6 linked regions of the Homo sapiens genome follow. The protein of the gene in region 4 interacts with the protein of the main gene of each other region in a pairwise test. Each region holds a gene or a part of one and is shown on either strand. Other genes may lie near its edges. The genes, in order: HM13, CIAO2A, ABHD4, DERL1, TEX44 and KASH5.

The links.
Region 1: the proteins of DERL1 (region 4) and HM13 interact in binary tests that used the Homo sapiens proteins (3 or more experiments, as listed by UniProt).
Region 2: the proteins of DERL1 (region 4) and CIAO2A interact in binary tests that used the Homo sapiens proteins (3 or more experiments, as listed by UniProt).
Region 3: the proteins of DERL1 (region 4) and ABHD4 interact in binary tests that used the Homo sapiens proteins (3 or more experiments, as listed by UniProt).
Region 5: the proteins of DERL1 (region 4) and TEX44 interact in binary tests that used the Homo sapiens proteins (3 or more experiments, as listed by UniProt).
Region 6: the proteins of DERL1 (region 4) and KASH5 interact in binary tests that used the Homo sapiens proteins (3 or more experiments, as listed by UniProt).

Annotation. Positions count from the first base shown.
Region 1 is NC_000020.11:31,520,784-31,524,870, reverse strand, and holds part of HM13 (signal peptide peptidase), read right to left. Parts: intron 1-4,087. UniProt on the Homo sapiens protein: Catalyzes intramembrane proteolysis of signal peptides that have been removed from precursors of secretory and membrane proteins, resulting in the release of the fragment from the ER membrane into the cytoplasm.
Region 2 is NC_000015.10:64,074,246-64,077,219, forward strand, and holds part of CIAO2A (cytosolic iron-sulfur assembly component 2A), read right to left. Parts: intron 1,293-2,974; coding exon 1,247-1,292; exon of another isoform or gene 1-1,246. UniProt on the Homo sapiens protein: Component of the cytosolic iron-sulfur protein assembly (CIA) complex, a multiprotein complex that mediates the incorporation of iron-sulfur cluster into extramitochondrial Fe/S proteins.
Region 3 is NC_000014.9:22,596,649-22,601,420, reverse strand, and holds the start of ABHD4 ((Lyso)-N-acylphosphatidylethanolamine lipase), read right to left. Parts: upstream 3,122-4,772; 5' UTR 3,115-3,121; coding exon 3,092-3,114; exon of another isoform or gene 2,979-3,091; intron 1-2,978. UniProt on the Homo sapiens protein: Lysophospholipase selective for N-acyl phosphatidylethanolamine (NAPE).
Region 4 is NC_000008.11:123,012,187-123,015,590, reverse strand, and holds the end of DERL1 (derlin-1), read left to right. Parts: intron 1-5; coding exon 6-144; 3' UTR 145-2,421; downstream 2,422-3,404. UniProt on the Homo sapiens protein: Functional component of endoplasmic reticulum-associated degradation (ERAD) for misfolded lumenal proteins. Forms homotetramers which encircle a large channel traversing the endoplasmic reticulum (ER) membrane.
Region 5 is NC_000002.12:231,591,151-231,595,017, reverse strand, and holds TEX44 (testis-expressed protein 44), read right to left. Parts: upstream 2,155-3,867; 5' UTR 2,067-2,154; coding exon 879-2,066; 3' UTR 742-878; downstream 1-741.
Region 6 is NC_000019.10:49,394,372-49,398,458, reverse strand, and holds part of KASH5 (protein KASH5), read right to left. Parts: intron 3,984-4,087; coding exon 3,879-3,983; intron 3,354-3,878; coding exon 3,167-3,353; intron 2,691-3,166; coding exon 2,626-2,690; intron 809-2,625; coding exon 742-808; intron 478-741; coding exon 316-477; intron 1-315. UniProt on the Homo sapiens protein: As a component of the LINC (LInker of Nucleoskeleton and Cytoskeleton) complex, involved in the connection between the nuclear lamina and the cytoskeleton.

The sequences.
Region 1 (4,087 bases), on a different chromosome or scaffold from region 4:
GTGGTGGCGGGCGCCTGTAGTCCCAGCTACTCGGGAGGCTGAGGCAGCAGAATGGCATGAACCCGGGAGGCGGAGCGTGCAGTGAGCCAAGATTGTGCCACTGCATTCCAGCCTGGGCGACAGAGCGAGACTCCATCTAAAAAAAAAAAAAAAAAAAAAAGCCACACAACAAGAACTACAAATGGCTCTTAATAATAATAAAAAAAGTCTTTATTCTCACTCTTAATAAGAGCTCAAACTAAAGCACACTGAGATTCTGTTTTTTGTCTATCGGAAAGGTAAGAATCCACACACTGGGTAACATACTGAGTCGGTGGGGCTACGGGGAAAGATGTAGTCTCCCACACTGCCTATGGGAGTCAATCTGTCTTCCTGTAGAAAGCAACTAGGCAATACACAAAAAATTACAAATGCACATACCCTTTGACCAAGCAATTCCATCTGTGGGAATTCTCCCTACAGATATAGTTCATAAATAAGTAAAATGCTACACATAAAGTGTATCCAAGGTATTCCTTGCTCTGTTAACGGCTTGCTGAGTGACTGGGTTTACTTCTCTGTCAAACAGGAGGACAATCTCTAGCCTCACTTCAAAAAAGGTCCAAGAGCCTTCTTTTTTTTTTAAAGAAAAGTGACAGGGTCTCTCTCTGTTGCCCAAGCTGGAGTGCAGTGGCAGGATCATAGCTCACTGCAGCCTTGAACTCCTGGCATCAAGTGATCCTCCTGCCTTGGCCTCCCAAAATGCTGAGATTATAGGCGTGAACCACCACACCCAGCCCCATAGGAGTCTTAAAGCAAATAAGATATGGGATGCGAAACAGCCTGGCAAACTAAAGTACTGTGCCTGTATTGGGGGTTGTGACTATCAGGGAGAGGTGAGTGAGGAGGCCCCTAACCACACCCTTGCCTATGCATGGCTGAGGCAGCCCAGGCTCTGGGCTGGAAGGGAGACCCTCCCCTCTGGAGCCACTGGAGGCAGCTCCATGTGAGTCACTTGGACAGCTTTGCTAGGAGGTGGGAGTGGGGTGGGTGAACAATACCCACATGAGAGGCCCAGTTTCCTTCCTTCCCTATTCTCTCCCAACCCTTGGCTTCTGCTTTTGCCAGCAGTGTGCTGTGGGACTTGGGCAAGTTCCTCATCCCCTCTGAGCATCTCCACACATTCAATACATTTCCTGTGTAGCAGTAGTATGGGTACAAAAATGAGTTCCTGATCTTGAAACACTCACAGGCAGGTAGGTTAATACTGTGACATGATACATATTACAGGGAACACGTATTCTATTTTATGGAATGCACAGCAAAACTGGCTGGGCGTGGTGGCTCATGCCTGTAATCCCAGCACTTTGGGAGATGGAGGCGGGCGGATCACCTGAGGTCAGGATTTCGAGATCAGCCTGGCCAACATGGTGAAACCTTGTCTCTACTAAAAATACAAAAATTAGCTGGGCGTGCTGGTGTGCATCTGTAATCCCAGCTACTTGGGAGGCTGAGGGAGGAGAATAGCTTGAACCTGGGAGGTGGAGGTTGCAGTGAGCCGAGACTGAGCCACTGAACTCCAGCCTGGGTGGACAGCGAGACTCTGTCTCAAAAAAAAAAAAAGACCAGCCTGGCCAACATGGTGAAACCCCGTCTCTACTAAAAATACAAAAATTAGCCGGGTGTGATATTGTGCGCCTATGGTCCCAGCTACTCAGGAGGTTGAGGCAGGAGAATTGCTTGAACCCGGGAGGTGGAGGCCGTAGTGAGTGGGGATCGTGCCACTGAACTCCAGCCTCGGCAACAGAGCGAGACTCTGTCTCATAAAAAAAAAAAAGCCCCCCTCCCAAAAAAAACCCCAAACAGGCTATTATAATGTAGTGTGACACATGATGCAATAGACATGTATATCACTGTGACACACAGTATGAACATCAGCAGTTATGAAGGGACTCTGAGATCAGGAAGTCCATTTGGACTCCCAGCTCTACTTCCCAGCTGTGGGACCTTGGGAAAGTGATTTTTTTTTTCTCTAAGCCTCAATTTCCTCAGCTGTAAAACAAGTTGTGAGGATTCTGATTTCTGCTTTGGAAGTACTCAGCATTGTATCTCGAGTCATCATTTAAACCGTATACACCATTTGTATCATTATTATGCAAAACGGAATCACGACACAGCCAACAAGACACTATTTCTGCAGAGAAGTAAGGGAGTCAGAGGTGGCAAGAGCAGGTACCACTTAAGCAAGGCCTTGATGGTCAAGCACAGTGTCTGGTAGTCTGGAGCCAGACAAATGCTGACTGGGTTTAGGAGTCAGCTTGTCAGTTTTTTTTTTTTGTTTTTTTTTAGTGGAGTTTTGCTCTTTTTGCACAGGCTGGAGTGCAATGGCACAATCTCAGCTCACTACAAATCAAGTGATTCTCTGCCTCGGCCTCCTGAGTAGCTGGGATTATAGGCACCTGCCACCACACCCAGCTAATTTTGTATTTTTAGTAGAGATGGGGTTTCACCATGTTGGCCAGGCTGGTCTCAAACTCCTGACCTCAGATGATCTGCCTGCCTTGGCCTCCCAAAGTGCTGGGATTACAGGTGTGAGCCACCATGCCCGGCTTGAGGAGTGTGCTTTGTGTACAAGGAAAGGAAGTGCTTATCAGGCAGAAAGATATGCACATGCAGAGGCTCAGGGCTGTCAAAGGACACGCAGGACTCTGTGGCTTCACCTACAAACCAGCATTATGGCTCATTTCCACATATTCCTTTCAATTCAGCTCAGCACCCTGGGTGGGAAGAGGCCTAATCTTATTCAGTGACAAACCAAGGTTGGACAGATCCTCTCCATTACACAGAGGACTCTGGTCTCCTTTGCGGGTGACTTATAAATATCCCATGCTGCAATGCTGAGTCAGAATGGGAGACTGGACTGTAATCCCAGCACTTTGGGAGGTCAAGGTGGGCAGATCGGTTGAGCCCAGGAGTTTGAGACCAGCATGGGCAACATGGAGATACTCTGCCTCCATTAAAAAAAAAAAAAAAAAAAGAATGGGAGACCTGAAATCTGACGATAATAGTAATAACAATAACATTACTGCACTGTTCTAGGTACTTTACATGTTTTCATCCTCACAAAAACCCCACAAAGCAGGTACTTTTTTTTTTTTTTTTTGAGATGGAGTCTCGCTCTGTTGCCCAGGCTGGAATGCAGTGGTGCAATCTTGGCTCACTGCAACCTCCGCCTCTTGGGTTCAAGCAATTCTCATGTCTCAGCCTCCCGAGTAGCTGGGACTACAGGCATGTACCACCACGCCCAGCTAATTTTTTGTATTTTTAGTAGAGACAGGGTTTCACCATGTTAGTCAGGATGGTCTGTCACAAGATCCTGACCTTGTGATCTGCCTGCCTTGGCCTCCCGAAGTGCTGGGATTACAGGCGTGAGCCATCACGCCTGGCCAGCAGGTACTTTTAATAGCTCTTTTACAGATGAGGAAGCGGAGGTCTAGAGAGGTGAAGTAACTTGCTTAGTGTCACACAGCTGGTGAGTGGCAGAGCCAGGACTGAAACTGAGGCAGTCCAGTTCCAGACCCCAAACTCTTGGGAGCTGTTTCCTAGAAGATTTCTATCTTTCCTATCTGGAAATTTCGGTTGGAAAGTTTTAACAGGAAGATACTTGGGAAGCCTGCAACCTTTCTGAGGAACAGAATCCTGAAGGTAACTGAACAGCTAATCTTTGTAGTTACAAAAATACTAAAAAGTTGCTAGGATTCTTTACCAATCCAATTGCGATTTTTTAACCAGATTTGTGTATGTAAATACAATAGATCCTGCAACATAAAACACAATTAGAAAGTGGGGGAAAAACCTGACACAAACAGCAGAAGTAAATGTAGCTTCCAGTGACATTCTGGATGTTGTTATCAGAGCGGAAACAAAAGCTGTAAGAGAGGACAGATGCCTGCTTCAAGCCATTGGCACGGTTCAAGCTCTCGGAGCACTGCTTCTACGCCATGCCCTGGAAATGATCTGAAATTCATGGGCCATTCTGTTACTGTTGACCCAGCTGGAGACTCCAGAGTCTCCATTCTTTACCACAACATCCAGTCACTCAGCTCTC
Region 2 (2,974 bases), on a different chromosome or scaffold from region 4:
GAAATGTCTCATGTAGAAGACACACAAACATACACATATTCCTGCGAAAATACTTTCAATTTGGTTTCTTCCTACTACAATGTAGGCTCCACAAAGGCAGGAATGTATCTCAAAGGCTGAACTGTACCCACACATAGAAGGCACTTAATAAATACTTACTAAATGAAAAACAAGACTCATAAGACTTAATACTATTGCTGCTGTAAAATCCTATCATTCAAGGAATTTCAAAACGATAACCTGAGTGGATTTAGGGTACCTAAACTCTTATTTTTCTAAATTACAGGTAGAAGCCCTCAGCTCGTGGGGTTTAAAGAAATTCAGCCCACAAAGAGTATAATAATCTACATGTCTAGAACTATAAATAGGGCATGGTTTTTAACAGTTTTCATGACAGTACCTAAAAAGTTTCCTGGATAGGCTGTTCCTCTGGAAGCAGCAGGCTTCCCTCTCTATAGCTCTCTTTTATGTAGGAGATTTTGTGTGTCTCTCTCCAGCCCTGTGTATGCCTTTCTGAGTCTTCTTGGTATCTATCTCACTGTTGCTCTTCCTCTATTAGCTCTTTCTTCCATTCCTCTGCTATTTTTTCCCACCTTCTCAATTTACTTAGTGATGAAACTTAAGTACAACATGCCTTTTAAATGTATTTCTCATTATTTGCACTCTATCATTTGTAGATTAAAAACATTAAAATTATGTTTTTAATGTAACACAGGGATCATACAGAACATTTTGTTTTTTGCTTTTCCCAAACCCCACTTCTGCTATTTTTAAGTAGCTACTGATTGATTTCTCTCTGTAGGCCAGAGGTCCTCTATATAAAAAAGGTTCCCCACTCCCATTCTAATATACTAACCCAGAGAGACAGCACCTACCCCAAGATTCACTAAAGCTCTACTTGCTAGACCTTCAATTTCAAGTACACAGCTCTCTATCCTGTCACCAAAGAAAAGAAGCCTACTTAGAGCTCATAAGTCAAGGTCCCCAGCACTGGATATTCTTTACAGATGTGTAGCCACTGGCCTAAACCAGTCAACATCCGTGGGCTCTAGTGCACTCGGAGTCCACTGCAAAAATTACTTCTTTGAAATGCCTAGGTTTCCTCACCTAGGAAGGAAGAGCCAATAACCAATTGTGCACTTTTTTGAAAGTAACCCAGTAGATTCTTGGCTGGCAGAAGAATCCAGTATCCAAGATAAAATACTATCTGAAGTTGTTTTTCAATTATGTTTCAACATTCACTTACTGTCTTCTTCTGTTGAGTGGGTTCCTTCAGAAATGTAGATTTCCAACTGGAAAGTGGGAAAAAAAGTAAAAGAAAAAACATTAATGCATTCTAAGATAAGAGAGTGAAGTGGAATGTACAGTAAATTCAAACATCTAGGGATGAGTGCCCAAATCCTGTTTCTTTTTTTTTTTTTTTGAGATGGAGTCTCACCCTGTTGCCCAGGCTGGAGTGCAGTGGCATGATCTCGGCTCACTGCAACCTCCGCCTCCTGGGTTCAAGCAATTCTCCTACCTCAGCCTCCCAATAGCTGGAATTACAGGCAGACGCCACCACACCCAGCTAAGTTTTGTATTATTATTTTTTTTTTTTAGTAGAGATGGGGTTTCGCCATGTTGGCCAGACTGGTCTCAAACTCCTGACCTCAGGTGATCCGCCTCGGCTTCCCAAAGTGTTGGGATTACAGGCGTGAGCCACTGCGCCCAGCGCCCCCCAAATCCTGTTTCTAACATCAGAGACATAGGGACAAATCCCCCACATCCTTCTCTAAAAAAAAAAAGGACTGAAATGAGTAGGATTTTTTATTTTGTTCACCTGGAAAAGGCCTGCAGGTGGTATTTCCATTAATTTTTTTATGAATACACAAAAATATCATTTTACACAAATGAGATCTCATATGTGTGGTTTTACTTAAGAATATCTCTTTTCTGCACTCTACTTCTTCCCAACTCGGTATCTAAACTTCCTCCTGCCCTGCTACTGACTCAGGAAATCTACAATAACAATCTAGTGTGGTTTCTTCCATATTCTTCTCTTTACCCACATAATCTTACACAGATTTTACACACACACACACCCACATATCAGGGTTGGAAGTTTCTTCACATTGCTTGTTTTACAAAAATGGGATCACAATATAGTTTTCAGCATCCTTCTTTTCTCATTCATTATTATCATGCTAAATTTATTCTCAAGTATAATACTGGTTAAGCTATCCCTCCTGGCCCTGCTGCACCTATAGACATGAGCTACCCTCCAAGACCCAGAGCTTTTAAGACAACCTACAAAATTATTGCAAATCCTGTGGTAAAGAGAGTATGCTGTAATAAAGACGTCTACTTTCCAGAGAACACTGGAACATATGAACTAATTTTTATTTACTTATTTACTACGGAGATAAACATTTCTCATGAGTGAGAAAAATCATAACTTATTATAGTTAAAAGGGACCTTAAAGGTCATCTAGTCCAATCTTTTTTTTTTTTTTTTTTTTGAGACAGGTCTTACTCTGTCGCCTAGGCTGGAGTGCAGTGGCGCGATCATGTCTCACTACAGCCTCGACTTCCTGGGCTCAGGTGATCCTCCCACCTCAGCTCCCACACTCCCACCCCTCTCCTCCCTCGTCTCTATTTTTTTGTAGAGACCGCGTATCGCCATATTGCCCAAGCTGGTCTTGAATTCCTGAGGTTAAGTGATCCGCCCATCTAGGCCTCCCAAAGTACAGAGATTATAGGCGTGAGCCACTGCACCTGGCCCCAATTTTTTTTAAAAAACAAAACAAGCCGGGCGTGGTGGCTCATGCCTGTAATCCCAGCAATTTGGGAGGCCGAGGCAGGCGGATCACGAGGTCAGGAGATCGAGACCATCCTGGCTAACACAGTAAAACCCCAACTCTACTAAAAATACAAAAAATTAGCCGGGCGTGTATTACCAGCTACTCAGGAGGCTGAGGCAGGAGAATCCCTTGAA
Region 3 (4,772 bases), on a different chromosome or scaffold from region 4:
GAGTTTACAAAGCTCTGTCACATTTATTATCTCAGCTTTCTAATTTCTCCTTGTTACTGATTATCATAATTTATGTTCAAGGAGATTAAAGGGAGAGGCATCTTTTAACTAATGTTTCAGTTATCCTTTGCTGTCCCCAGTACTAGCTGTTCCTTAACAGTAGGACAAATTCCCATGCCATCTGCCCTACTGGCAGGGCACTGGTTGGTGTTTATGTATGCCCTCTTCCAAGCCCCTAGAAGTGTGGAATACTGTGTTGTGCCCAACTGATCTCTCAGGTAATCAATCAGTCCAACCCATGGAGATGGGGTAGGCAGGGAGGAGGAGGTGAGAGACCTGGATTCAAGTTCTGTTATGGTTCACTGACAGGACACAGGTTCCCTCTGGTCTTGTTTTCTAGATTGTAAAATGAGTAGAAAGCTCACCTATGTCCTCACCTCTAATGACATGCGGTAACACAGATAACTCATCCCGTTTTCTCCTTCATACCCAGGGACCTTAAGTCATTGCAAGGTAGAGGTTAAAAGCACCAGCTTTGGAATTACACACACACACACACACACACACACACACACACACACACACACACCCCCCTGCTGGACGTGAATCATAGTGTTATCATTGATGAGCAGAATGGTTTTGGCCCATTAAATAACCTGTCTTTGAGCATCTGTATATGTAAGGACACTTGTAAGATGCCCAGTACAAATGAGATGCTCAATGAATGACAGTTTGTATTATTCCTTGTTAACCCCATATGATATTTCTCTTTTCTTGAACTCTGCCTGAGTTACAGGACAGATATCTACAGCTATAGGAAGGGCCTGTGAACACTGGCATATTCAAGGTAGGGCACTCTAAGGGGGAGTGAGGGGAACCATGACCAAATCCCCTTGGCCCACACTGGGCATCCTGATACATCATTTGAAGCACAGAATTTTAAATTAGGATGTTTCCTTAGGAATCAACTAGTCTAGCCTCTGTATTTTACAGATGAGCAAACTGATGCCCAAAGAGGTCATACAAGTTAGAAAAAAAGAACCAGAACTAGAGCCCCTTATCTCAAATCCAGGTTTCTCTCCCTGAACCTTCCAGCCTCAGCTTTTCAAGGTCATGTACAAATATTCACAGAACATAACCACATTTTTACATTTATGTCTGTTTTCTCAAGGGAGGTGTGATCTAAACTCTGAAGGCCAGAGTTCCAATTTTAGCACTGTCACTTACCAGCAATGTGACTGTGGGCACATTATTTAGCTTTTCTGTGTCAGAGCTTCCTCATCTTTAAAAGGGAGGTAATAATATCTACCTCATAGGGTTGCTATAAAGATTAAAAGTGTTAATGCATCTAAAGCACATAGAATATTGCCTAGCACAAACTCCCAATCAACTTTCTTTCCCCCCAGCTAAATCATAAGTTGTCTACATTCCCAGTGTTTTGCAAGTAGCAACTCTCAGTGGATGTTTGAAGTTTGAAAGAAAAACTGGGGTTGCAGCTGGGAGTGATACATCAATGGTTTTAGCCAGATGAGAGTTGTCAATATCAATCGATCTAATCCTAGGGAGACTCAGAATCCTTTTAATATTCTACTGGAATTCCTTGTAGGCTTGAAGCACGGGGACCAAGACCACAGGATTTTGTCAGCCTTAAGAGACAAATTTTCTCTCTAAATCACAGACTGTGACAAGTCAGATCATAACACCTGGATCCCACATTGTCCTGTTACTGTACAAAGCAGAGTTCAGGAGAAACGCTACCCAAGGAACAGCATCATAGACTGCTCAGCAGAGAGTCCTTGGTGGGAGAATTACTTTGCTTTCCTTCTTCACCAAAAATGTTACAAGTAAACACTGGAAATGGTGCCTGGCACACTGTATGTGCTCAAAACTATGCGGGAGGTAAGGGCTGGAGTGGGAAATTGAGGCAAGGAGCAGAAAAGACATTCAGCCATGAACTTAACCTGGCTAGGACGGTCTCTGTCAACTTGATGGGGGTGAAGCACAAGGGGTTCTGTGCTGGGAGAGAATCCTGTTCTAGACCTCTGTGATCTTGGGCAAGTCTCCTAATTTCTATGGACACCAGCTTCTTCATTTTTAAAAAGGAGCTGAACTACCTGCATGTCCTCCAGCTCTAATATTCTGCCTCCCTAAGTCCTTTAAAGCATTGCAAATTTCCTCTTGGAAAAGTCATCTTAGAAAGTAAAACATTCCCCTGGACATTTCTTTCAAGCCCAGCAAGCTATTAATTATGGTCATAAAGTTAATTAGTTCCCCGGACTTCCAGTTCTACAGGTCTGAAAAACAGGATTACTGGGTCCAGGAAAGGCCCAGTTCTGGTGAAACCAAGGCTCGGCTGGGAGCTGAGTCATTCTTCTCGTAGCAACTTTTTCTTACTCCTATCAGATTGCGAACTGCTAGTCACACCACCTACAGGTGGTATCCCAAACCTGATGCCCTTGAAAGAGTGGTAGCAAATCCCAATAGCTCTAAATCTGAAACCATTGCATTAAAGATGTTGTTACGATTATTAAAAGCATTATCAACTAGGATCACATGCGGCTACGTGTCTCGGTGGGCGACAGCTAAAGAAACTTGCAAGCCCGTTGTTCCACACCAATTTCAGCGCGATGGAGACCTCTCCAGTCTCTCCACATCTTCTCTTTGCCGGGCGGAGGGAGGAGGCTCTCTCCATCCCCACGACTGCCGTTCTGGGGGGCAAGTCGAGACGAGCACGCCTGGCTGCTACCTCCGCACCCGCGTCCCACAAGCTTGCTTTCGGGGATCTCACACATCAACATGGAATCTCTCCAGAGGCCAGAGGAGAATGAGGGGCACTCGCGAGGACTAAGGTAGAAAGCCAGGATCCCCGGGCTGCGGGCGAGCGCGTCTCCCATGGCTCCCCAGGCTCAGCCGCTGCCTCTTCTGGGCAAATGCAAAGCAAGCAACGCACCCACCCCCCGCCCTCCCCGGAGGCCGACCTGGAAAAGGAAGAGCGGGAAGGTGTCTACAACTGTTCCTCAGCCACAGACAGTCCCAGGATCATGGCCCAGAGAGAGAGAGAGAAAGAGAGAAAGGGACAGGATTAACTCACTGCTGCTCCAGATCATCGGCCATAGTAAACAAGCCTTGCCAGGTCCTGGCGAGCCCGCCCAGCGCCTGACGCCAGCACCAGCTGACCCGGGAGGCCGCGGGGAGCAAGGGGGCGTGGCCGCGCAGGGGGCAGGGCTCGCGGCGGGCCGGCGGTCGGCGGTGGGACCCTCAAAACTCTGCAACTTGGTTTCAGCTAGTGGGGCCCTTGCTGTGTTTTCAATCACTGGCATGTGTCCCGGCAGAGATGTCTCTGACGGTCTCAGAATGGGACAGTAATCCTGGTCACACATTTGGGGGAGTCCTTGCAGGAGCTCCGACAGCCCTCCCTTCTCTCATAACTAAAAAGTGGTAGAACTACGCCTGCACGCTCGCACCCACTCTTTGGGCTTCCCATTGTAACTGTGTCCTCCTGAAATCGACCCTTGTTAATGTTCCTTCTAGTAAGAGGCTTAAATGTTTGTGGAGACAACGCCATTGGTTGAATGCTCCTACAAAGGGCCTGGATGCCAGATTTCGAAACTAAAATACAGGACACCTAGTTAAATGTAAATTCCAGATTTAAATAAAGCAAATACTTTTTTAGAATAAGTATGGGCCATGCAGTATTTGGGACATAAGTAGGCATCCTGTATTTTCTCTGGCAAACCTAAACCTATATGACATCTGCCAAAATGGGCATATCTCTGCTCTGATGTTGACTCTGACCCCAACCTATTTTCCAGGGAAAATATAGCTCAACTCCAGGTCACCCTCAGTTTGGAGGATAACAGTTGAAGGACTCACCAATAAGGCTAGGTCTCCTTTCGGTATGTAAATGCGGGGACAGGGAGATAAGGCTGGCTTGGCCCAGAGGTCCTGAGTGCACTTCAGTTTGCTCAGCAGAGGAGCTAAATCTTGAGGCTGGCTGCTGAATTTGCTTGTACCGGTAAACAGGGCCTGACCTCCCTGGAACTGTCAGATTTCAGATCATCCCCTTAGTTAAAACCAGACTAGGGGTGGGGCGCGGTGGCTCACGCCTGTAATCCCTGCACCTTGGGAGGCCAAAGTGGGTGGATCACTTGCAGTCAGTAGTTCGAGACCAGTCTGGCCAACATGGTGAAACCCCATCTCTTACTAAAAATACAAAAAATTAGCCAGGTGTGGTAGCAGGCACCTGTAATCCTAGCTACTGGGGAGGCTGCGGCAGGGAGAATTGCTTGAACCCAGGAGGCGGAGGTTGCAGTGAGCCAAAATTGTGACACTGCACTCCAGCCTGAGAGACAGAGTGAGACTCCATCTCAAAAACCAAAAACAAACAAGCAAACAAACAAAAAAAACCAGACTGGGGAGTGGTGGAGGATGGGTGAGAGAATGCTGGTGCACAGGGGTTTATCAAAGCATTTTTCTTTAGCCTTCCTGCAGGACCCAGATGATTCTGAGATTTCTTCTTTGTAGCAACACAGTGTTAAGCTGATCATTATAAAGACTTAACGTTTAGGAGAACCAGCATTTATAGAGTTTAGGGGCTTAGGAATTTGCCAGATGTGGTACAAAGTAGTTCAACTAGCAGAGGACTTGTCTCTTTCATGCAACCTTTTTTTTTTTGAGACTGATTCTCACTGTCACCTAAGCTGGAATGCAGTGTCATGATCATGGCTCACTGCAGCCTTGAACTCCTGGGCTCAAGGGGTCCTCTTGCCTCA
Region 4 (3,404 bases):
ACCAGGTACCGCTGGCTGCCCAGTAGGAGAGGAGGAGTATCAGGATTTGGTGTGCCCCCTGCTAGCATGAGGCGAGCTGCTGATCAGAATGGCGGAGGCGGGAGACACAACTGGGGCCAGGGCTTTCGACTTGGAGACCAGTGAAGGGGCGGCCTCGGGCAGCCGCTCCTCTCAAGCCACATTTCCTCCCAGTGCTGGGTGCACTTAACAACTGCGTTCTGGCTAACACTGTTGGACCTGACCCACACTGAATGTAGTCTTTCAGTACGAGACAAAGTTTCTTAAATCCCGAAGAAAAATATAAGTGTTCCACAAGTTTCACGATTCTCATTCAAGTCCTTACTGCTGTGAAGAACAAATACCAACTGTGCAAATTGCAAAACTGACTACATTTTTTGGTGTCTTCTCTTCTCCCCTTTCCGTCTGAATAATGGGTTTTAGCGGGTCCTAGTCTGCTGGCATTGAGCTGGGGCTGGGTCACCAAACCCTTCCCAAAAGGACCCTTATCTCTTTCTTGCACACATGCCTCTCTCCCACTTTTCCCAACCCCCACATTTGCAACTAGAAGAGGTTGCCCATAAAATTGCTCTGCCCTTGACAGGTTCTGTTATTTATTGACTTTTGCCAAGGCTTGGTCACAACAATCATATTCACGTAATTTTCCCCCTTTGGTGGCAGAACTGTAGCAATAGGGGGAGAAGACAAGCAGCGGATGAAGCGTTTTCTCAGCTTTTGGAATTGCTTCGACCTGACATCCGTTGTAACCGTTTGCCACTTCTTCAGATATTTTTATAAAAAAGTACCACTGAGTCAGTGAGGGCCACAGATTGGTATTAATGAGATACGAGGGTTGTTGCTGGGTGTTTGTTTCCTGAGCTAAGTGATCAAGACTGTAGTGGAGTTGCAGCTAACATGGGTTAGGTTTAAACCATGGGGGATGCAACCCCTTTGCGTTTCATATGTAGGCCTACTGGCTTTGTGTAGCTGGAGTAGTTGGGTTGCTTTGTGTTAGGAGGATCCAGATCATGTTGGCTACAGGGAGATGCTCTCTTTGAGAGGCTCCTGGGCATTGATTCCATTTCAATCTCATTCTGGATATGTGTTCATTGAGTAAAGGAGGAGAGACCCTCATACGCTATTTAAATGTCACTTTTTTGCCTATCCCCCGTTTTTTGGTCATGTTTCAATTAATTGTGAGGAAGGCGCAGCTCCTCTCTGCACGTAGATCATTTTTTAAAGCTAATGTAAGCACATCTAAGGGAATAACATGATTTAAGGTTGAAATGGCTTTAGAATCATTTGGGTTTGAGGGTGTGTTATTTTGAGTCATGAATGTACAAGCTCTGTGAATCAGACCAGCTTAAATACCCACACCTTTTTTTCGTAGGTGGGCTTTTCCTATCAGAGCTTGGCTCATAACCAAATAAAGTTTTTTGAAGGCCATGGCTTTTCACACAGTTATTTTATTTTATGACGTTATCTGAAAGCAGACTGTTAGGAGCAGTATTGAGTGGCTGTCACACTTTGAGGCAACTAAAAAGGCTTCAAACGTTTTGATCAGTTTCTTTTCAGGAAACATTGTGCTCTAACAGTATGACTATTCTTTCCCCCACTCTTAAACAGTGTGATGTGTGTTATCCTAGGAAATGAGAGTTGGCAAACAACTTCTCATTTTGAATAGAGTTTGTGTGTACCTCTCCATATTTAATTTATATGATAAAATAGGTGGGGAGAGTCTGAACCTTAACTGTCATGTTTTGTTGTTCATCTGTGGCCACAATAAAGTTTACTTGTAAAATTTTAGAGGCCATTACTCCAATTATGTTGCACGTACACTCATTGTACAGGCGTGGAGACTCATTGTATGTATAAGAATATTCTGACAGTGAGTGACCCGGAGTCTCTGGTGTACCCTCTTACCAGTCAGCTGCCTGCGAGCAGTCATTTTTTCCTAAAGGTTTACAAGTATTTAGAACTCTTCAGTTCAGGGCAAAATGTTCATGAAGTTATTCCTCTTAAACATGGTTAGGAAGCTGATGACGTTATTGATTTTGTCTGGATTATGTTTCTGGAATAATTTTACCAAAACAAGCTATTTGAGTTTTGACTTGACAAGGCAAAACATGACAGTGGATTCTCTTTACAAATGGAAAAAAAAAATCCTTATTTTGTATAAAGGACTTCCCTTTTTGTAAACTAATCCTTTTTATTGGTAAAAATTGTAAATTAAAATGTGCAACTTGAAGGTTGTCTGTGTTAAGTTTCCATGTCCCTGCTCTGCTGTCTCTTAGATATCACATAATTTGTGTAACCAATTATCTCTTGAAGAGCATTTAGGAAGTACCCAGTATTTTTTGCTGGATTAATTCCTGGATGCAGAATTCCTGGGTTTTCATTTTAATGAAGGAGGATGCTTGCTAACTTTGAGTGAGGAGTCATATCTGATTGTAGCATGCTTTATGGCATTTTTATAGCTTCTACCCATGGATCTGAGCCCTGGAACTTTATAAAATTAGTTTAATCCTGTTTCCTCATAAGGCACACACAGACTAGATAGCAGGTGCCATGACATTCCTGAGCCCTTTTTTTTTTTTTTCCTCGAGGGTGAACATCCCAGTCTGTATCTTGGGCCTTCGACAGGCCAACTTCACTCATCACAAGGTGAGGTGACAGGAAGCAGGTTGTATGTATGTCCCTCTTCTATTACTGGGGAAATACTGAAGCAATAGAAAAAGATCCCGCTTATTTAGAAGGACACATTGCCAGTATCATTGTGTTCTAAGCTACCTTTTGAATGACATGGATCTAATAATAGGCAATGTTGCAGTTGCCAACATCTTCGTTTATTGCCAACTCTGTTTCTGAGGTCCCTGCCCCTCTTACACTTTCAGCAGTAACTTAACACTCTGAATAACTAACCTTTGAAAGAAGTTACTCCTTTCTGGACTTTATACTGTTTTTTTCTTAGAAGGCTGGGCTGAGCAAATGGGTTTACTGGCAGTTCACTTGTTTGCCTTCCAGAGTGACTGGTGATCAGAATTGGCCAGGAATACCATGTCCTGTGTTTACTTCTTTCTTAACCCTCCCTCCCACCTTCCCTCCCTGTCCCTCCCTCTTTCTCTCCCTCTCTCCCTCTCTGTCTCTTCTTTCTTTGTTTTTTTGAGACAGGATCTCAGTCTGTCACCCAGGTTGGAGTGTAGTGGCATGATCTCGGCTCGCTGCAACCTCTGCCTCCCAGGTTCAGATGATCCTCCCACCTCAGCCTCCTGAGTAGCTGGGACCACAAGTGTGTGCCACCACACTCGGCTAATTTTTTGTATTTTTGTTCGAGATGGAGTTTCACCATGTGGCCCAGGCTGGTCTTAAACTCCTGAGCTCAGGCAAGTCACCTGCCTCGGCCTCTC
Region 5 (3,867 bases), on a different chromosome or scaffold from region 4:
CCGGGCCTTGCTAATGCTTTCCCAGATGCATATCTTCACAGACAAGAGTAAATACCACGTAAAGAGACCTGGGTCTAAGGTGAGCAACTCATCCTAGTTTGCCTGGGGTTTTCCGGTTTTAAATATGAAAGTCCTACAACCCAGAAACCCCCTTAGTCTGAGGCAAACCAGGACAGTCGGTTTGCTTAGACTCCTGCTCCCTCTGCACCCCCAGCTCACCGGAGGATAATGATAATGGCAGCCACCATGTGTGGGCTTATCAAGTGCCAGACACCATGCATTATGGCCTGCATCGCTTCCCTTCTGTCTTATAACAGTGTCATGGTATGGATTTATTCTCTCCTTTCTACAGCTGAGTAGGCTGAGAGTGACGTGATTCGCCCAGGGCAAGTGCTGGCGCTGGGGTTTGAACCCACATGGTGTGACTCAGTACTGTCAACTGCACTGCCTCTTCTGCCTCTCAGCTTGAGCCCGCCAGGCCAGCCTAGGCCCCTGGGAAGGCTCCTCAGGAGCTTACCTGGGTGGAGGTTCAGTAGGGATGGGTTTTTGCAGGTCTGAGACACCCCCCGCCACACTGCCTCCAGCTCTGTCCAGGTTCTTCTCTGCACGTTTGCCCCCAGCCCCTGAATGGGACAGCCTGAGAAACCCTCAGGGGACGCTGTTTCCACCGCACCCCGAGCCCTCCTGTCCTGTCACCGTGTTGCTCACTGCACCCCAAGGGAGGAGGCTGGTGCTTAGAAATAAATGCTCACTGGTGATTTATTGCATGGGCTGGGGGAACCGTCCAGAGCAAGAATGGGCAAGGGAGCAGGGCGTGAGGGTCCCAGGGATCTCTGGAGGCCACTGAACCAGCCCTTCGGGGGTCCCTGTGCAGGGCTCTAATCATAGTTGGGGTCAGCCTGGGCCTGGCGTGGGGTGAGGTGGCTGGTCAGGTAGCGCATGGCTGAGCGGATGCCCTCCACGGTCCTCTGCTCCACTGTCTCCAGCACACGGGTGATGGTGCGCAGGGCTGAGCTGGTCCCTGACACCAGCCCAGAGGAGAAGGCCGAGCTGACGCTTCCCACCAGGCTGGGGACCGAGCGCAAGCTGGGCCCCGAGCTGTGCAGCAGGTCTGCCACAGTGCTGTGGCCGGAATCCAGGAAGCCTGTGGCTATGGCCATGCCCATGGTGGTCTCGGACCACACCAGGATGTCTGCCAGGGAGCTGATGGAGCCCTCGCCCCTGTCCAGCAGGCTGGTCATGGAGCGCATGTAGCTGTTCTCCTCACTGGCCGTGTACAGGCTGGAGTCCAGGGGCCTTCTCCCCAGGGCCACCTCGTGGGGGCCAGGCGACGGGGACACACTGCCTGCTGGAGGTGGAGGGAAGAACCAAGTCTGCAGGTCTCCTAAGCTGTCCACCACATTTGCCCCCATTGCCACTGGGGACTCATCAGATGGTAAAGCTTCAGCTTCAGGGTGTGGGGCCTTTGGATGCTCAGCTTTCTCCTCAGCAGACTTGGTGGTGCTGGCAGCCTGAGGGCCATGCTGGCCATTGGCACCTGCTGTGACATGGTCAGCATCACTCTCGACGGGCTGAGCCTCCATGTGCTGGGTGGACTGTAGCTCAGCACTCGGGGCAGAGGGGGCTGACTCCGGCTCTCTCTCAGGAACACTCGCCATTTGTGACATCTTGTCTTTACCCAGGAGGTGACTTGGGAAAACCACTAGACTCTGACTTGTCCTTGCGTCTTGAACCTGCCTGTCCCACGCTGGATTCTGAAGGCTCATAGACACTTGCAGGGGACTTGGATTTTGGCTGGGAAGCAGAGGTGTGATTTTTCTGGGTGTCTTCTGGCCGTGTTCTGGAACAACTGCACTCTTGTCTTTGTCTCCAGATGTTGATATGGCCCTGGGGGTGGCCGTCTTGAAGGAGGCCTGATCTATATCCTGCCAGTCAGTGGATGCGACAGAGCTGCTCACTGCCAAGACATCTGCTGTGAGTGGGACCTGACCTTGGGGCTCTCCTGCTGGGCTGTCCTTAGACCTGCTGTCATCCACGTTGCCCAGGGGGTACCCTGGGAGTGCCATGTATGGGGCTGCTGGTGGAGCCGGCCTCCCCCTAGGGCTCTCCTGTGGTCATCTATGCCCTTTGCTGCTTGTGGCGGTTGGAGGGAGTGGCTGCAACCCAGCTGGGCTGAGTTGTCCAAGTGGTGAGGTCACAAGGGACTGTGGCCACTGGTGATGTCACAGGTACCCATAGAGCAAGGGTCTTGAGCTTCTGGAGCAGCCTTCCAAGTGGGCTAAGTCTATGGGACAGTTTGTTGCCAACTTTGCAGGTACATAGGGAAAAAATGACAAATGTTCTTGAAAGGGCTGGAGGCGTGTGCACAGGGGCAAGTACAACCACAGGGACACAGGAGGAGTGACAGCTGTGACTCTGACAAATGAGAAGGGATGCAGATGTTGATTTAGAACAGTGTTTATAAGGGACCCCTCCTGGCACCTCTCTGTCTACACTGGTGCCTCAAGACCCCAATTTAGGCTGGGCATGGTGGCTCACTCCTGTAATCCCAGCACTCTGGGAGGCTGAGGTGGGGGGATCACCTGAGGTCAGGAGTTCGAGACCAGCCTGGCCAACATGGTGAAACCCTGTCTCTACTAAAAATGCAAAAAGTAGCCGGGCGTATTGGCGTGCACCTGTAATCCCAGCTACTGGGGAAGCTGAGGCAGAAGAATTGCTCGAACCCAGGGAGTGGAGGTTGCAGTGAGCCGAGATCGCACCATTGCACTCCAGCCTGGGCAAAAGCGTACTCCGTTTCAAAACAAATAAACAAACAAAACAACAACAACAACAAACAACAACAAATAACCACCCCCAATTTAGTCAGTGTTCCTGCAGGGAATCAGTTTCCCAGCAGTGGTGAGTAGGTATAAGCAAAAGCCAAGGGCCTGGGCAGCTCCATTTGTGGCTGTGGGTTTAACCCTTTTGATGTAGGGCAAAAATCTCTATCTTCTCCTTGCTCATCTGGACTAGAAGGGCAGAGAATAACAAAAGGTCTGCAGACCTCTGAGTGTTTCTTGGAGAAGGATAACCCCAGATACACCTACTTGTGCTTAGCTGGGCACGGTGGCTCATGCCTGTGATCCCAGCACTTTGGGAGGCTGAGGCGGGCAGATCATCTGAGGTCAGGAGTTTGAGACCAGCCTGACCAACATGGAGAAACCCCGTCTCTACTAAAAATACAAAATTAGCTGGGCGTGGTGGCACATGCCTGTAATCCCAGCTGCTCGGGAGGCTGAGGCAGGAGTATCGCTTGAACCCCGGGAGGCGGAGGTTGTGGTGAGCCGAGATCGCACCATCGCACTCCAGCCTGGGCAACAAGGGCGAAACTCTATCTCAAAAAAAAAAAAAAAAAATGCCTACATTAAGAAGATGTTTGGAGAGGAAGGCTCAGTCGGTCGTGTCTGTGCTTCTCCAGGGGTTATCAGCTAACATTTAGTGACTGCTTATGGGCAGAAAAGGGCGCATAGCATCCTTCTCATCACCCATCACCTCTGGGTAGGTACGGTTCTACTAGTATACTCAGTTTACACACAGGCATGCTGAGCCTCACAGAGAATAAGCGACTTACTCAAAGCCACACTATTAATAAGAGCTGAATCTGGGATTTGAACCCTGTCTGGCTTCAATACTAAGCTTTCCAGCACTCTCTCATACCCAGGAGGGATATTAAAAACGTTGAATGAGGGACTGGGCATGGTGGCTCATGCCTGTAATCCCAGAACTTTAAAAGGCCAAGGTGGGAGGATCGCTTGAGCCCAGGAGTTCAAGACCAGCCTGGGCAACGTAGTATGACCCTGTCTCTACAAAAAATAAAACAAAAATTAG
Region 6 (4,087 bases), on a different chromosome or scaffold from region 4:
GGCGGAGGGTACAGTGAGCTGTGATCACCCCCACTGCACTCCAGCCTGGGTGACAGAGTGAGAACCTGTCTCAAAAAAAAAAAAAAGAGAGAGAGAGAAGTCTGAACCCTCAAGGGAAAGATAAAAAGACCAAAACAGAGGCTGAGAGATAAGAATCAGAGAGACACAAAAGATAAAAACAGAAAAGGGAAAAGAAAGGACAGGTACAGAGTCAAAGAGCAGGATGCAGACACGAGCATGGGAGATAGAGGCCGGCTGCTGCAGGGAGGACGGAGGCAGGGGCGCTGGGGAGGGTGGGTGTGGCATCCAGCCCACCTGTGAAGCTGCTTACGCAGAGCCAAGATCTCCTCCCCAAGGCGTGCTGACCCCTCCTCAGCTGTCTCCATGCTCCGCTGCAATTTGGCATTCTCCCCAACCAGACGTCGGTTGCTGAGCTCCAGGTCCTCCAGGCTGCTCAGCAGGTCAGCTGTGGCTTGTCTAGGGGCAAGGAAGGGGTTCAGGTCACTGTCCACAGCCCCTGACTCATTTCCCCGGGTCGAGGTAGGTGCTGGTGGTGGGGAGATGTGGCTCTTTTGGGGAAAGATAAACAGGAGAGAGACTCCTCTGCTCTCCCTGAACTTTCAGCAAAGCCCCGTCCCTCATTCATTTCCCTGAAGGATCCCAAGCCCTACCCGGGCCTCGGCAGGCTGGAGGGGACAGGGTGTGGGCAGGAGGGTCAGGGAGGGGTGTGAGGATAGGTACAGCTCGGGTCTGGGGTCTTCGCCTCCGAAGCTCTCCAGGTTGGCTGGCTCCTCAGCTTCTGGGCATCCTGGAGGGAGAGAGCCAAGAGAATGTTGGCTTCCCTGGAACCCTTAAACGTAAAGTGCCCCAGGGCTCTGAGGTTGGACTCCATCTGCCTCCACCCTCACCTGTGCTCTGGAGAATCTCATGGGCTTTTGGGGCTGCAGTTATACCCACTGTAAAGCCCTCTTGCTTGTCTTCTACCTTGAGCTCAGGCTGGATCTCCCAGATAACCCTAACTCCCCACATTCTTTACACCCAACACTGGGCAGCACTTCACCTTCCCCTTCCCAGATCCCCCACCGACCACTCAGCCACTGGGCGGACCTGGCTCCCTTGCTCCCTGTCACCCCCAGTCCAGCAGAGCCCAGACTTCTCCCTCCTGCCCCTGACTCTCTGCTCCACCCCTCCTCTCTGTCTCCATGCCCCGGCCCTTGCTTTCTCCTCTTGGATCCTCACCAGAGCCTCTTCTCTGGCCTTCTGGCCTCTAGTCCCTCCTCTGCTTGCAGCCCTCCCTGGGCCCCCAAGCCTGATGAAGGAGGTTGAAGAGAACTTCCTTCCCCACCGTTTTTTGTATGGCTAGAGAAATGGAACATGACCACCATTTTTTTTTTTTTTTTTTAAAAGACAGGATCCTGCTCTATTGCCCAGGCTGGAGTGCAGTGGTGCAATGCATGGCTCACTGCAGCTTTGACCTTTCAGGCTCAAGCGATCCTCCTGACTCAGTGTCCCGGCTAGGACCACAGGTACATGCCACCGCACTCAGCTAATTTTTTATTTTTAGTAGAGATGGTGTCTCACTATGTTGCCCAGGCTGGTCTCAAACTACTGGGCTCAAATGTTCTTTCCACTTTGGCCTTCTAAAATGCTGGGATTACAGGCTCACGCCTGTAATCATGACCACTTTTTTTATGGAGCACCTCCTATGTGTGAGGTCCTGGGGATACAATGGTGAGCAAACCAGCCAACTAAACCCAGGTGCCAGTGGCTAACTAGATAATCAGATTTCCTCTGCAGGTGGATGTTCCAATGGAAAGGCCTACAAGTCTAGGAGTGAGCATGGGGAGCAAGGAACTCTAGCCAGGGGCATACCAGGGCTTCCCCTTTGCCAGAGGAGTGGATGACGGCTTGGCGCAGTGGCTCACGCCTGTAATCCCAGCACTTTGGGAGGCCAAGGCAGTTGGATCACCTGAGGTCGGGAGTTCGAGACCAGCCTGACCAACATGGAGAAACCTCGTCTCTATGAAAAATACAAAATTAGCTGGGCGTGGTGGTGCATGCCTGTAATCCCAGCTATGCGGAAGGCTGAGGCAGAAGAACTGCTTGAACCCAGGAGGCGGGGGTGGCGGTGAGCTGAGATTGCGCCATTGCACAACAGCCTGGGCAACAGGAGTGAAACTCTTATCTCAAAAAAAAAAAAAAAAAAAAAAAAAAAGTCCAGCAGGGTGGGGAGCAAGGAGTGGAGGGGAACAGCCTGAGCAAGGACCTGTGCTGGGCAGAAGTGGGGCACATTCGAGGAAGGGCAGCAAGACCAGTGGGCCTGTGAATTCCTGGACTAGAGTGAGGAGAGGTGATGTTAATGATGGAGCAGAGGTAGGCGGGGCCTCGTAGGCCTCTCTAATAGGGCTGGTGTGAGGAGAACGAGTTGGAAACCACCCTCTGAAGAAAAGAAACCCAAAGCTCACGGAAGGAAGGGACGGAGGACCTAGAAAGCCACACTCACAGCTCTAGTCTACAGTAAAGGTCCCTGGTTCCTACCCTATCCCTTGCTCTGCCCTGGGTGGTAAGTCCCCACACTGTCTGACCCAGGGCCTGCCTGCTTCATTCTATATATAGCAATCTCACCAGATGGCAGTTGCCGGGAGGTCAGGGCTCCCTGGAAGGCGGTCTCCTCTTCCAGCTCTAATCCCCTGTATCAAAGGGATGAGGCTTAGCGCCCCACTGTAGCTGCCCCTCAGTCCTCACCAGCCACAGGCAGGGGGATTGCAGGTGGGAGGAGGGGACCGGGTCAGGTGAGAGCTGGCACCACAGGGTAGGAGGGTGAGGCCAGATGGCAAGTGCCCGTGGCCAGATGGAAAAGCAGGAGGGGCAAGGAGTGGGTTTGGTGAAGGGTTGGGGAGGGACCTCTGTCAGCCCCAAACTCCTCCCTTCTCCAGCCCCATTTTATTTCTGTCTCCCAGACCCCCTCTGCTTCCTCATCCAAATTATTTTGTCCTCAGACTCCCTATCTACCCCCTCTGAATCCCGTCTCTTCATTTTTCTCTCCACAGCCTCATTCCAAACACAGTAGGTCCTTGGGCCTAAAGGATGCTGGCTCCAGTAAGCAGGTATGAGGTTAGATCTTAGGAAGGACTTCCCAGAGGAGGATGAAGATGTGGGGACTCACCCATGTAGTTGACAGGCAGCAATCCAGTCACGCATGACAACCAGGAAAGTGTCCAAGTCCACAGTGGCCTTAGGGCCCTCCCCATTGGGGTCCAGGCTGTTGGCCAATGTTTGGAGGCGTGCATCCTGGGGGCCCTGGCCTGTCACAGCCTCCAGGTAGGCCAGCACCTGGGCCACAGCCACAGTGCCTGTGACAGAGCATGCAGTGAGGGGGTCTGGGGCAGGTGGGGAGTGATGGGTATGGACTGGCAGCAGCTTGGGACCAGGATGTCACTGGCTAGGCTGGTGGCACTCCTGCTCCATGGCCCAGTGGAGACACACTGGGCAAGCCCTTTCCCCTCCTCTGAGTCCACTTTTTCACCTGGAAATGGGGCCCAGTCATCCCCCCATCACAGGGTAAACCAAAGGGGATGGACATAGGGACAGCATCAGCCATGCCCCACGCCACCATGGTGGCTGCCTCCCTCCCCTATCCCACGACCCCAAAACTCTGCCCTCTTCCATCAACGTCCCCCAAGTTTTCCTCATTCTAAAAGGCCTTCACCCCATTATCCACGTTCTTCTTCCTGAAGCTTCCCATAATCACCCACTTTGTTCTTACAATACCCCCAAGAGGGGGCCTTAGCCCAGTCTTCTCTCTGAGGCTCCCCAGTTCCCAGCCTCCACCCCATCCTGCCCGCACTGGTCCCCAGCACCCCTCATGCCCCCACCACCTGTCCTCTGAGGGTCACAAGCTTCGAACGTGGAGTTGAGTATTTGCTCCTCCAAGCTGACCGGCATTCCCAGCCTTGCCTCCTCAGGCCGCTCCCGGAGGTACACTGGGGAGACAAGAGGGCTCAGCTCACCAGTGGGAAGAATAAGGAAGGAAGAGGGGTGACCCCAGGTCCTCAGCCTCCTGGGCTCTGTAGCGGGGAGGGAATTC